Linked DNA regions of Homo sapiens: region 2 is linked to region 1. Evidence: fine-mapped expression QTL. A gene starts in region 1. The other region holds a variant in brackets. All regions are shown on one strand. Distances are from middle to middle.

Region 1 (5,380 bases):
TTCTCCTGCCACGCAAGTTTTAAACTGTCACTCTGCGCTGTTAGCCTAAACAAAACATAATTGGTAAGGTACATCTGCCACATACAGAAGTCAATAATCCATTCCAAACCCAAAATATTTCTGGATTATCTTGCTCCTGAAAATTGACACTGGTAGAAAATTAGTGATCCAGAAATAGGCAACTTCCACTAAAAGGCAAGTAAAATTAGGTAAGTAAAATACAAGACTGACATAATTTTATAATAAAGGGCAAAATTTTAAAGGCTCAAATGTCTTAGTGAATACAAAATTAAAGGAGGACCGAAAGAGAAGTTAAAAATTCAGCTTTTTACAAAAGAAAAAGCACCTTCCACTCCACCTCTAGCCCTAAAAAAGTCTTTCCCCTTCCACTCCTACAATATTAAAACAAAATTTATATACTACTCAAAACTGTATACCACAAAATTTAAGCCATCAGATGCTGGAAGGCTTAAACAAAATTAAAATCACTACCTAGCATTAAAATACAATTTGTACAGTGACTTCAGGTCCCTTGAGAGAAGAACTTACAGTCACAGAGAGTAAATGCTTGATGGGCAGAGTCTGGATCTGTGTTCTACAATCTACCCAAAATGGGCAAATGACATTAATACAAAATGTAAAGTACACTATGTACAGGCTCCCAACTCCTTTCCCATCTGCTGTGGAAAGTATTCCCGGGCCGGGCGCGGTGGTTCACTCCTGTAATCCTAACACTTTGGGAGGCCGAGGCAGGCGGATTACTTGAGGTCAGGAGTTCGAAACCAGCCTGGCCAATACGGTGAAACTCCGTCTCTACTAAAAAATACAAAAAAAAAAAAAAAAAAAAAAAAAATCAGCAAGGCGTGGTGCCATACGCCTGTAACCCCAGCTACCTGGGAGGCTGAGGCAGGAGAATCGCTCGAACCTGGGAGGCAGAGGTTGCAGTAAGCCGAGATCGCGCCACTGTACTCCAGCCTGGGCGACACAGCAAGACTCTGTCTCAAAAACAAAAACAAAAAAAACCCACAAAAGTATTCCTTTGCAAGAGTTACCACCTCTGCCTTGAAAGGTGTCAAACCATCAAAGCAAAAGTGGCTTGCAATGTCAAATTAGCACAGACCTGGGCTATAAGCACACTCTTCACGCGTGTACTGTGTCCAGGAACAATTTCTCAAAGCGGCCAAGGGGATGCTGCAAAGCCAGTGACGCGGCTGCCCTCAATGCAGCAACCACATAGAGGGAGAGTTTCTCAACAGTCCCAGAAGCGACTCCTGGGGATTAGGGTAGGCTTCCCTTCCATTTCCAATATGCTGCTTATAAAAGGAGACGATTCTGCCCGCGTTGACAGCACCCTGAGTCCCCATGAACACGCGAAAAGGTTTCTAGCTCCTATCAATGCCGTTCGGAAGCAAAGCAAGTGTTCACGACTCGCCTTGATCTGGGGCCCTGTCCAGGGTGGGAAGGCCCCAGAAGCAGGCGCCAGGACAGAAATGAGCCTTTGCCCTTCCCAATCCACGCAGCGTCCCGCCCAGGCCCGGGTTCCCGGCAGCCAGGCCCCCTCCCCGACCTCCAGCTCACCTGATCTTGTAATTCGGTAGGGTGTGCTTGCGCTTGATGATCTTCTTGAGCTGGTTGACGATGATGGAGGTGAGCTGGGGCATGGGCCGCCCTTCAAACTGGGAGCGCACCTCGAAGTCGATCAGCGGGTCTTCCACGAAGGAGAAGAACCAGTGGGTGAAGGGCACGCGCGTAAAGACCAAGCGCAGCCTTCCCACCACGCGGGACAGCTTGACAAACAAGTAGGCGGACTTGCCGAAGACCAGGTCCACGTCGATGGCCAGGTGGAAGCCCCCGTTGTACTCCACCTCCGCCTCGAAGGCCAGCTCCTCGGGGCAGGCGGCGGGCAGCGCCTCCCCTTCAGGGCCATCGGGCTCCCCGGTGGCCGAGGGCACGACTGGCCGCACGAGCCGGATGGTCTTGATGAAGGGCACCGTCTCGCCCAGGAACACGTCCCGCAGGCTCAGCCCCTCCAGCAGGCGCCCGGCCGTCTTGGTCTGCAGCAGCTCCTCGAACTCCACCTTGATCTTCTTGGTGACCCAGCGGCGGGTCAGCGCGGTGTCCCGCAACTCCCGGAACAGGAATAGGATGGTGGCGTTGAGGAAGTAGCAAGTCTCCCGCGTCGGCGGGGCGGGGGTCTCGGGGGCCGCGGTGGGGGTCGCGCCGCCCTCAGGGGCCGCTCCGGAGGGCTCCTCATCCCGGCCGCCGCCATAAAGGTACTCCCTTAGGAGCAGGCCCGGCACTGGCTTGATGTAGCGGAAGCCCTCGCCCGCGCGGGCGGCCTCGTCCGCCGGCGGCTCGGGCTGTCTGCGGTACAGCAGGAAGAACTGGGCGAGGAGCGTGAGGAAGGAACCCAGCACGGCCGACGCCAGGATCATGAGCAGCAGCCCCATCCCGCCACCGCCTCCGCCCGGGCCCCTACTCCCGCGCCCACAGCGCCGCTTTCTTCACGCCGCCGCCCCCGCTGCCTCCATTTTGAGGACATCGGGCGGCTGGGTCGGGGCGAGCGGCTCCGTGGGCCTCGTCCAGGGGCTCGGGCCGGCGCGCTGCGGCGCCCGAGCCCGCAGCGGCCCGCGCCTCCTCAGACGCTCCCGAAGGGCCGGTGTGGCGGCGGCGGCAGCGGGGCCGGGACCGGCGCCTCCCTCAGGCCTCCACTCATTGGACGAGCAGCGCGTGACGTCAGAGGCGTGCTCGCTCCCGGCGGCGTCGCCCAGCAGTCGGCGCCCGGGCACGCGGACGCGGGTCCTCCTTTACTTCTCTGCGGCCCTTCCAACCTCGTCCCCCCACGCCAACATTCCAATCCCCGCGGCGCGCGCCGCCACCCACGTGGCCGTCACTTCTGGAGCTGCGGTCGGGATCTGGGAGGACGGCTGGGGACGCGGGCTGGAGGATAAGGCGGTCCGGCGGAGCGGGCCTGACGCGTTCCGGATGCCGGCCATCCCGTTATCCTCGGCTGCGCCCATCCCCCGTCTCTGGCCGCAGTCCCCGCGGTTACCTCTGCAGCGGCGTCGCTCATCCTGCGGTGTGCTTCTTCCACTCGCACCCGTGACAGCCCGGCTGGCAGCGGCGCTTTCCCTGCGGGCAGCACCGCAGACGATCCGAGCGGGCCTTTCGGACGCTTCCCAAGCCCACGGCGAGAGGGGACCGACTGCCTCAGAGGCAGCCATCGCGGACCTGCCGTCCCCCCGGCAGACGCTCTGCGTCCGCGGAGGGTGGGCCCTGGGAAGGAGGGACGCAGGGAAAGGGCGCGCCACGCGGAATGACTTTCCCACCGAGGTGGATCTTCGAAATTTCAGGGAGGAGGAAGTTGAAAGAACAGCCAGGAGGAGAGATGCATAGTGAAACGAGTTTGCCAAGTGATTGGAAGATTAATATGCGACCCGCTGTCAGTCTCTGGTTAAGCCGGTAGTCCATCTATGAGGCAGTTATTCACTGTTAGCCCCCACCCACTTGACAGATGCCAACACTGGTGCAGAGAGCGTGGGGAGGTTGCGTGGGGCCGCAGAGTGGAGCCTGGTTTATCTAACACTAAACCCTAATGTCTTGATCACTACTCTCTGCCCTAACACAGAAACTGCTTCAGTTGTAAGCAGGCCAGTGGGTTCCCTAATGTTCAGGAAGGGAGAATTGGGGAGGCGGATTAGGGAAGACGGCAAGGAATTTTGCATAGAGTAGCACCTTAACCAAAGCCACGAAGCTAAGCCAGGTTGCCCAGCAACAGCGTTACTCCTCCTGCCCTCTGACTACTTAGTGGTTACATCATAAATGCTTATCCCTCCAAGCACGTGGAGTTCCAGTCCTGCAGGAGTCAGATATCCCATACCTTAAAGGCCGATTCTGGCTGTACCTAAGGAGCCAGGGCAGGGCTCCTCTCTAGCCCTTGAAAACCTTCAAGCCGGCCGGGCGTGGTGGCTCACGCCTGTAATCCCAGCACTTTGGGAGGCCGAGGCGGGCAGATCACGAGGTCAAGAGATCGAGACCAGCCTGGCCAACATGGTGAAACCCGTCTATACTAAAAATACAAAAATTAACCGGTCGTGGTGGTGCGCGCCTGTAGTCCCAGCTACTCAGGAGGCTGAGGCAGGAGAATCACTTGAACCCGGTAGGCGGGGGTTGCAGTGAGCCAAGATCACGCCATTGCACCCCAGCCTGGGCGACAGTGCAAGACCCTGTCTCAAAAAAAAAAGAAGAAAACCTCCAAGCCAAGGATTCTCTTAACTGTAGGTGATTCTACCACAAAAATAGACCTGACCCAGCTGGGACAGGTACAGAACTTCGGAACCAGGCTTATCATGCCTTACCGAATCATGCCCAGATACGAAACCAGAATGGCTTTCATTACTATGAAGACATAAGATAGGTGTCTGCTGAGGAACCATGCTCAAACCATGGCCGAGATTTTTCGGAGATCTTGGCAACTTCTGTTCTCTGGTCCCCTTTGGTTCCTGGCCTCTGCTTCTGGGCTGCTCTCTGGGATCTACACTGTTTCAACTCAAATGAGAAATGTAGACCCTTCTATGATTTCCACCGTAAACCTATTCATAACATTCATGCACATTGCATATTATAAATGTTACAGAAGCTGGAAGTAGGGTGGCATGAAAGAAGTTATTCACATTCCTGAAATATAAAACCCTCAAACTGTATATTGATCCATCCCGAGTTGCAAAATATTCTTCACCCACCTCCCTCCTCAACAATGAAAGTTTGTGGTCTTCATGGGAATGAGTCCTCAGTCTTCATCTTGCAGACTCCTTTCTTTTCTCTTCTCCTCTCACTTCTGCGCTCCTCAGAATACCTGTGAGAATCTTAAATCTTCTCAGTTTGTTTTACAGAGTCAGAGTCATTGCATTCCCCAGCAAAACTTGACCCCTTAGGGACACACTTCAAATCCATGAAAGAGCTCAGCAAACCTTTTGGGAAGAAAAAAGTATTCTCCCTTGTGTGAAACATGACCAACATTGATTAAACACTAATAATAATAATACAGAGAACTGACCATGTGCCAAGCACAGTGTTAAGCATGTTATTTAGAAATATTTAAATATTTCAAACATTATTTAGAAATCAAAATATCATGAGTTTTTGTAAAGTCAAATATGCAGTCATGCACCATAGAAGGATGTTCTTGTTAACGACAGACTGCCTATAGGATGGTGGCCCCATAGGATTATAGTACCGTATTTTTACTATGCCATTTCTGTGTTTAGAGATGTTTTGATACACAGATACCATTGTGTTATGGTTGCCTACAGTATTCAGTACAGCAACGTGCTGTATAGATTTGTAGCCTAGGAACAATAGGCTATACAATATGGCCCAG
Region 2 (5,380 bases), 20 kb after region 1:
CTTACAATGTAAGTATATATTCAACTCCTGAATGTGCCTAATGAAATCTGATCCTGTTATTCCCTGTCTCCTTCAGTCTTAAAACACTCTGATGGTTTCCCGTAGCTGTTAAGACAAAGATCACAATCATCAATGGGCCTGCAAGGTCTGACCTCCACCATCTGGTTCAGAGGTCTGAAAACTTTTTATTAAAAAAAAAAAATCTACTTTTTTTTTTCTTTTATCTTCTTTTTAAATTTTTTTTGAGACAGGATCTCATTCTGTTGCTCAGGTTTGGAGTGCAGTGGCGTGATCACAGCTCGCTGCAGCCTCGACCTCCCAGGCTCAAGTCATCCTCCCATCTCAGCCTCCTGAGTAGCTGGGACTACAGGCTCATGCCAACAAGCCCAGTTAATTTTTTTTTATTTTTAATTTTTCAGGAGAGATGAAGTCTCTCTATATTGCCCAGGCTGGTCTCAAACTCCTGAGCTCAAATGATCTTCCCACCTTGGCCTCGCAAAGTGCTAGGATTGCAGGTGTGAAACACTGCCCCTGGCTGCAAACTTTTTCTATAAAAGGCAGACAATACATTTTCTAGACAGCATTCTGAATTTCTTCCCACCTTTGTGGGTCATAATGTCTCTGTTGCAACTACTCAGCTCTATCATTGTAGCTGAATTCAGCCCATGGGCCATAATTTGTTGACCCCTGGTCAGGAATGGTCGGAACCTTTCATCCAAACACACATCCAGCCTCACTGGCCTTCTCTCAGAATCTTCGTATTCCCACCCATAGGCTCCCTCTCCTCATGGGGCCTCTATCCAAGCTATTTTCTCAGCTTGGCTATTCTCCCAAATCTGTGTATGGTTAACCTTACTTACCACCTGGATCCAATGACAGGTTTCCAGGGAAGTCTTCCCTGACACTCTGAGACTGGGCCAGATTCCCCTAGCACATACACACCTTCCTAGCATTCTCCATCTCTCCTGTATGGCATTCACCATGGTTGTAATTTTTAGGATTTTCATGTTGGTTTGCCCTCTGTCTTCCTACTACGTAGGGAACCCCATAATGATGAGGCACTGTCTTTTTTTTATTACCTAGCAGAGTGCTTAGTACATAATAGGAGCTCAATATATATGTGATTGAAGAAAGAAAGAGAGGGAGAAAAGAAAACAGGGAGAGAAAGAAGGAGAAAGAAAGATGGAGGGAGGGATAAAGAAGGAAAGAAGGAATCAGCCCTTTGAATTTACCTGTTCAATGACTGAGAATGAGAATTCAAAGTAATAAAAGTAAATGGAATATTTTTCTTACTCATCCATTGCTGAAATCAGAAGAACATGAAGAATTGGTAAAAACTGGCACTTCTCCCTACCCATTCAGACACTTGGTAGCTTTTGGTGCTTGGGTGACATCAGATCTCTAGTCAGACTGGAATCAGGAGGCCTTCTCCTTGCCACTCTTCCTCCCAGCACCTGGACCCTCCCAGTTGCGATCATGTGTCCAAGTTCCCCACAGGGATGCCCATCAAGGTCACCTCTCTCAAAGTGCCTTTTCCCAAAGTTACTCAGGCCTCCTGGGATCAAATCCCAGCTCCAGGACTTAGGGGTTGTGTGACCACGAGCCAGTCATGGAAACTCTCCAGGTTTCTGGTTCCTCTCCATAAAGTGGGGATACCATTAAAAAATGGGCAAAGGATATGAACTGACACTTCTCCAAAGAAGAGATACATGTAACCAATAAGCATATTAAAAATGCTCAACATCACCAATCATTAGAGAAATGCAAATCAAAACCACAGTGAGATACCATCTCATACCCGTCAGAATGGCAATTACTAAAAAGTCAAAAAAATAACAGATGCTGGTGAGGTTGTAGAGAAAAGGAAACGTTTATACACTGCTGATGGGAATGAAAATTAGTTCAGCCATTGTGGAAAGCAGTTTGGCGATTTCTCAAAGAACTTAGAACTACCATTCAACTCAGCAATCCCATTATTGGGTGTGTACCCAAAGGGATAGAAATTGTTCTACCACAAAGGCACAGGCATATGTATGTTCATCACAACACTATTCACAATGGCAAAGACATGGAATCAACCTAAATGCCCATCAATGGTAGTAGACTGGATAAAGAAAATGTGGTACATATATGCCATGGAATACTACATAGTCATAAAATAGATTAAGATCATGGAGCTGGAGGTCATTATCCTATGCGAATTAGTGCAGGAACAGAAAACCAAATACCATATGTACTCACATGTGGGAGATAAACTATCACAAGTGGGAGATAAAGATTGAGTACACATGGACACAATGAAGGTAACAATAGACAACACAGCCTACTTGAGGGTGGAGGGTGGGAGCAAGGTGAGGATAAAAAAACTACCTATGCTTATTCCCTGGGCAATATGCTACCTGGGTGATGAAATAATCTGTACACCAAACCCCTGTGACATGCAATTTACCTGTATAACAAACCTGCACATATACCCCAGAACCTAAAATAAAAGCTAAAAATAAATAAATAAATAAAGTGGGAATAATGACATAGGGTTATTGGGAGGATTTAATGGCATAATATGTAGAAAGTACTTAACACAGGGCCTGGCACATATTTAGTGTCAATAAGTTAGCTATTATTAGTTAAATTTTTAAAAAACTCTATCTGATCATCTGATTATAGCAGTCAGGCTCATCTTCAACATATGTGGGGCCAGGGCTAGAGTACAAATGGTCTAAATATTTAAAATTATAACTAAGTGGCATGCGTTGTAGTCCCAGCTATTTGGGAGACTGAGGCAGGAGGATTGCTTGAGCTAAGGAGCTTGAGGCCAGCCTTGGCAACATAGGAACCCTATCTCTATTAAAACAACAACAACAACAACAAAAATTAGCTGGGCCTGTTGGCTCATGCCTGTAGTTTTAGTTACTTGGGACACTGAAGTAGGAGGATTGCTTGGGCCCAGAAGTTTGAGGCTGCTATGATTGCACACCACTGCACTGCAGCCTGGGTAACAGTGAGACTCTGTCTCTAAAAAAAAAAATTAAAAAAAATAATAATAACAAAATAGAAAATTATAAATCAAGCTGCAAAATAC[A/AT]TTTTTTCTCCCCCTACATTGACAAATACGACTTCATAATGGAAATTTTCTTTTTAAGTTGGAAAACTATAGTTTTTATCTGACTGAAAGTCTACAAAATATCAAGAATAACTGAATTCAGGTATTACTGTGTACGTGCTATTGATGGCCCAGAAATATTTGAATGAGTGATAAAATAAAGACATATATCATGAGTCATTACATATTTCATAAATTTTTTTTCTTTCACAGCAAGAAAAAAACTAATTATCTAATTGCAATTAAAGTATGCAAATAATTTACATTCCATTGATATGATCCAAAAGATTAAAACATAAAATTATATTCAAAAAGTATCAAATTTTAATATATTTCCATCAAAAATGTAAAATGAAAGTAAATGTAATAGTTAAAGTTGAATATTTTTGAAAAAAATTTTTAAAGCATGAAAAATATTTACATTAAAAGGCAAAGTAGAGGGTCGGGCATGGTGGCTCATGCCTGTAATCCTAGCACTTTGGGAGGCTGAGGTGGGCGAATCTCAAGAGATTGAGACCATTCTGGCCAACATGGCGAAACCCTGCCACTACTAAAAATACAAAAATTAGCTGGGCGTGGTGGCGTGTGCCTGTAGTTGCAGCTACTCAGGAGCCTGAGGCAGGAGAATCACTTGAACCCAGGAGGCGGAGGTTGCAGTGAGCCAAGATCGTGCCACTGCATTCCAGCCTGGCTACAGAGTGAGACTCCATTTCCAAAAAAAAAAAAAGGGTTAGGCGAGGTGGCTCATGCCTGTAATCCCAGCACTTTGGGAGGCTGAGGCGGGCGATGGTTCACCTGATGTCAAGAGTCCAAAACCAGCCTGGCCAGCATGGTGAAACCCTGGCTCTACTAAAAATACAAAAATTAGCCAGGCATGGTGGCAGGTGCCTGTAATCCCAGCTAATTGGGAAGCTGAGGCAGGAGAATCTCTTGAACCCAGGAGGCGGAAGTTGCAGTGAGCCGAGATCGTGAGATTGCACTTCAGCCTGAGCAACAGAGCGAGACTCCGTCTCAAAAAAAAAAAAAAAAAAAAAAAAGGCAAAGTAGAAATTATAAATTAATGAGTGTAAAAATTATAGATGAAATTATTTCAGTAAAGTTACATTTTTTGTTTAAAATTTTAACAGTGGAGTTAAATCATAATAAATACTTTTACAAAAATAAACTATTCAGTATTCTAGCATTCACCGTTTTAACTTAGTTGCCAATACAAATAATCAGTACTACATGCACTTATTTCATGCCTAAAATTACAAATCATATCTTCAAGATGTCAATCATGACATTGGGTTATGGATAGTTGATACGTGATGGTTCTACTACAGCCTAACCACATGGTGACATTTTATTATGTGATTCGTGTAATTCATGAAGAGTTTAGGAACCACAAATGAAAGAAATAAAATGAAAAGAAAAGCTCAGCATGACAGGGAATGATACTATGCGAAACAAAAATCTGTTTTATTCATGCTCTCTGGGAGGAAGAAATTGACAAGTTAATTAATTTGCTTTTTCTCTTCCTAATGGTCCCTACCACTAAAATGCTCTCTGCCCTCTGAAGCTGTGTCCATCTCTGATGTTGGCAGCAGCAACCCAAAAACCTTTATGACCTTCAGGACAGGTAGCCTTTGTTTTGAGGATAAAAGGTAAGAAATATGGAAAAGTGTTCCCTAGGGCTTGAGCAGCGTTGGTGCCAGGAGCAGATGTTTAGGATTAGGGGTAGTGATATGCCAGTGCTGAGCACCAGGTCCCATGTGACAAAGGAACACACATGTTCTTTAAGAAGTGTGTATGTGTGTGTATTAGTCTGTTCTCATGCTTCTATAAGGAACTACCAAGAGGTCTAATTGACTCACAGTTCTGCAGGCTGTACAGGAAGCATGGCTGGAAGGCCTCAGGAACTTACCATCATAGCGGAAGGTGAAGCGGAAACAAGCATGTGTTACCATGGCCTAGCAGGAGACAGAAAGAATAAAGGGGAAGCGCTACACACTTTTAAAGCAACAAGATCTCATGAGAACTCATATACTATCATGAGAACAGCAAGGGGGAAGTCTGCCCCCATGATCCAATCACCTCCCACCAGACCCCTCCTCCAACATGTGGGGATTACAATTTGGCCTGCGATTTGGGTGGGGACACAGAGCCAAACCATATCAGTGTGTGTGTGATATTATGGGGTCACCCTTCTCTTTCCCAGGTCTGAGGGCAATATGGAAAGGAATACCCTGGATAATTGACTGATTGATAGGTCATCTGGGGTATTTGCATTGCAAATAA

The links. PIP is the estimated chance that this variant, and not a neighbour inherited with it, causes the effect.
Region 2: its variant is fine-mapped to the expression of PDZD8 in whole blood (TOPMed, PIP above 0.99).

Annotation. Positions count from the first base shown.
Region 1 is chr10:117,372,778-117,378,157 of GRCh38, forward strand. PDZD8 (PDZ domain containing 8) reads right to left here and starts at 2,663. Exons shown (of 5, transcript NM_173791.5): 1 at 1,579-2,663. The coding sequence starts at 2,450. RefSeq lists silencers at 2,154-2,333, 2,434-2,753 and an enhancer at 2,984-3,103.
Region 2 is chr10:117,393,235-117,398,614 of GRCh38, forward strand. No RefSeq gene overlaps it. Among named protein-coding and RNA genes, the nearest start is that of PDZD8, 20 kb to the left of the region's middle. The variant A/AT (reference allele first, on the strand shown) is at 3,083.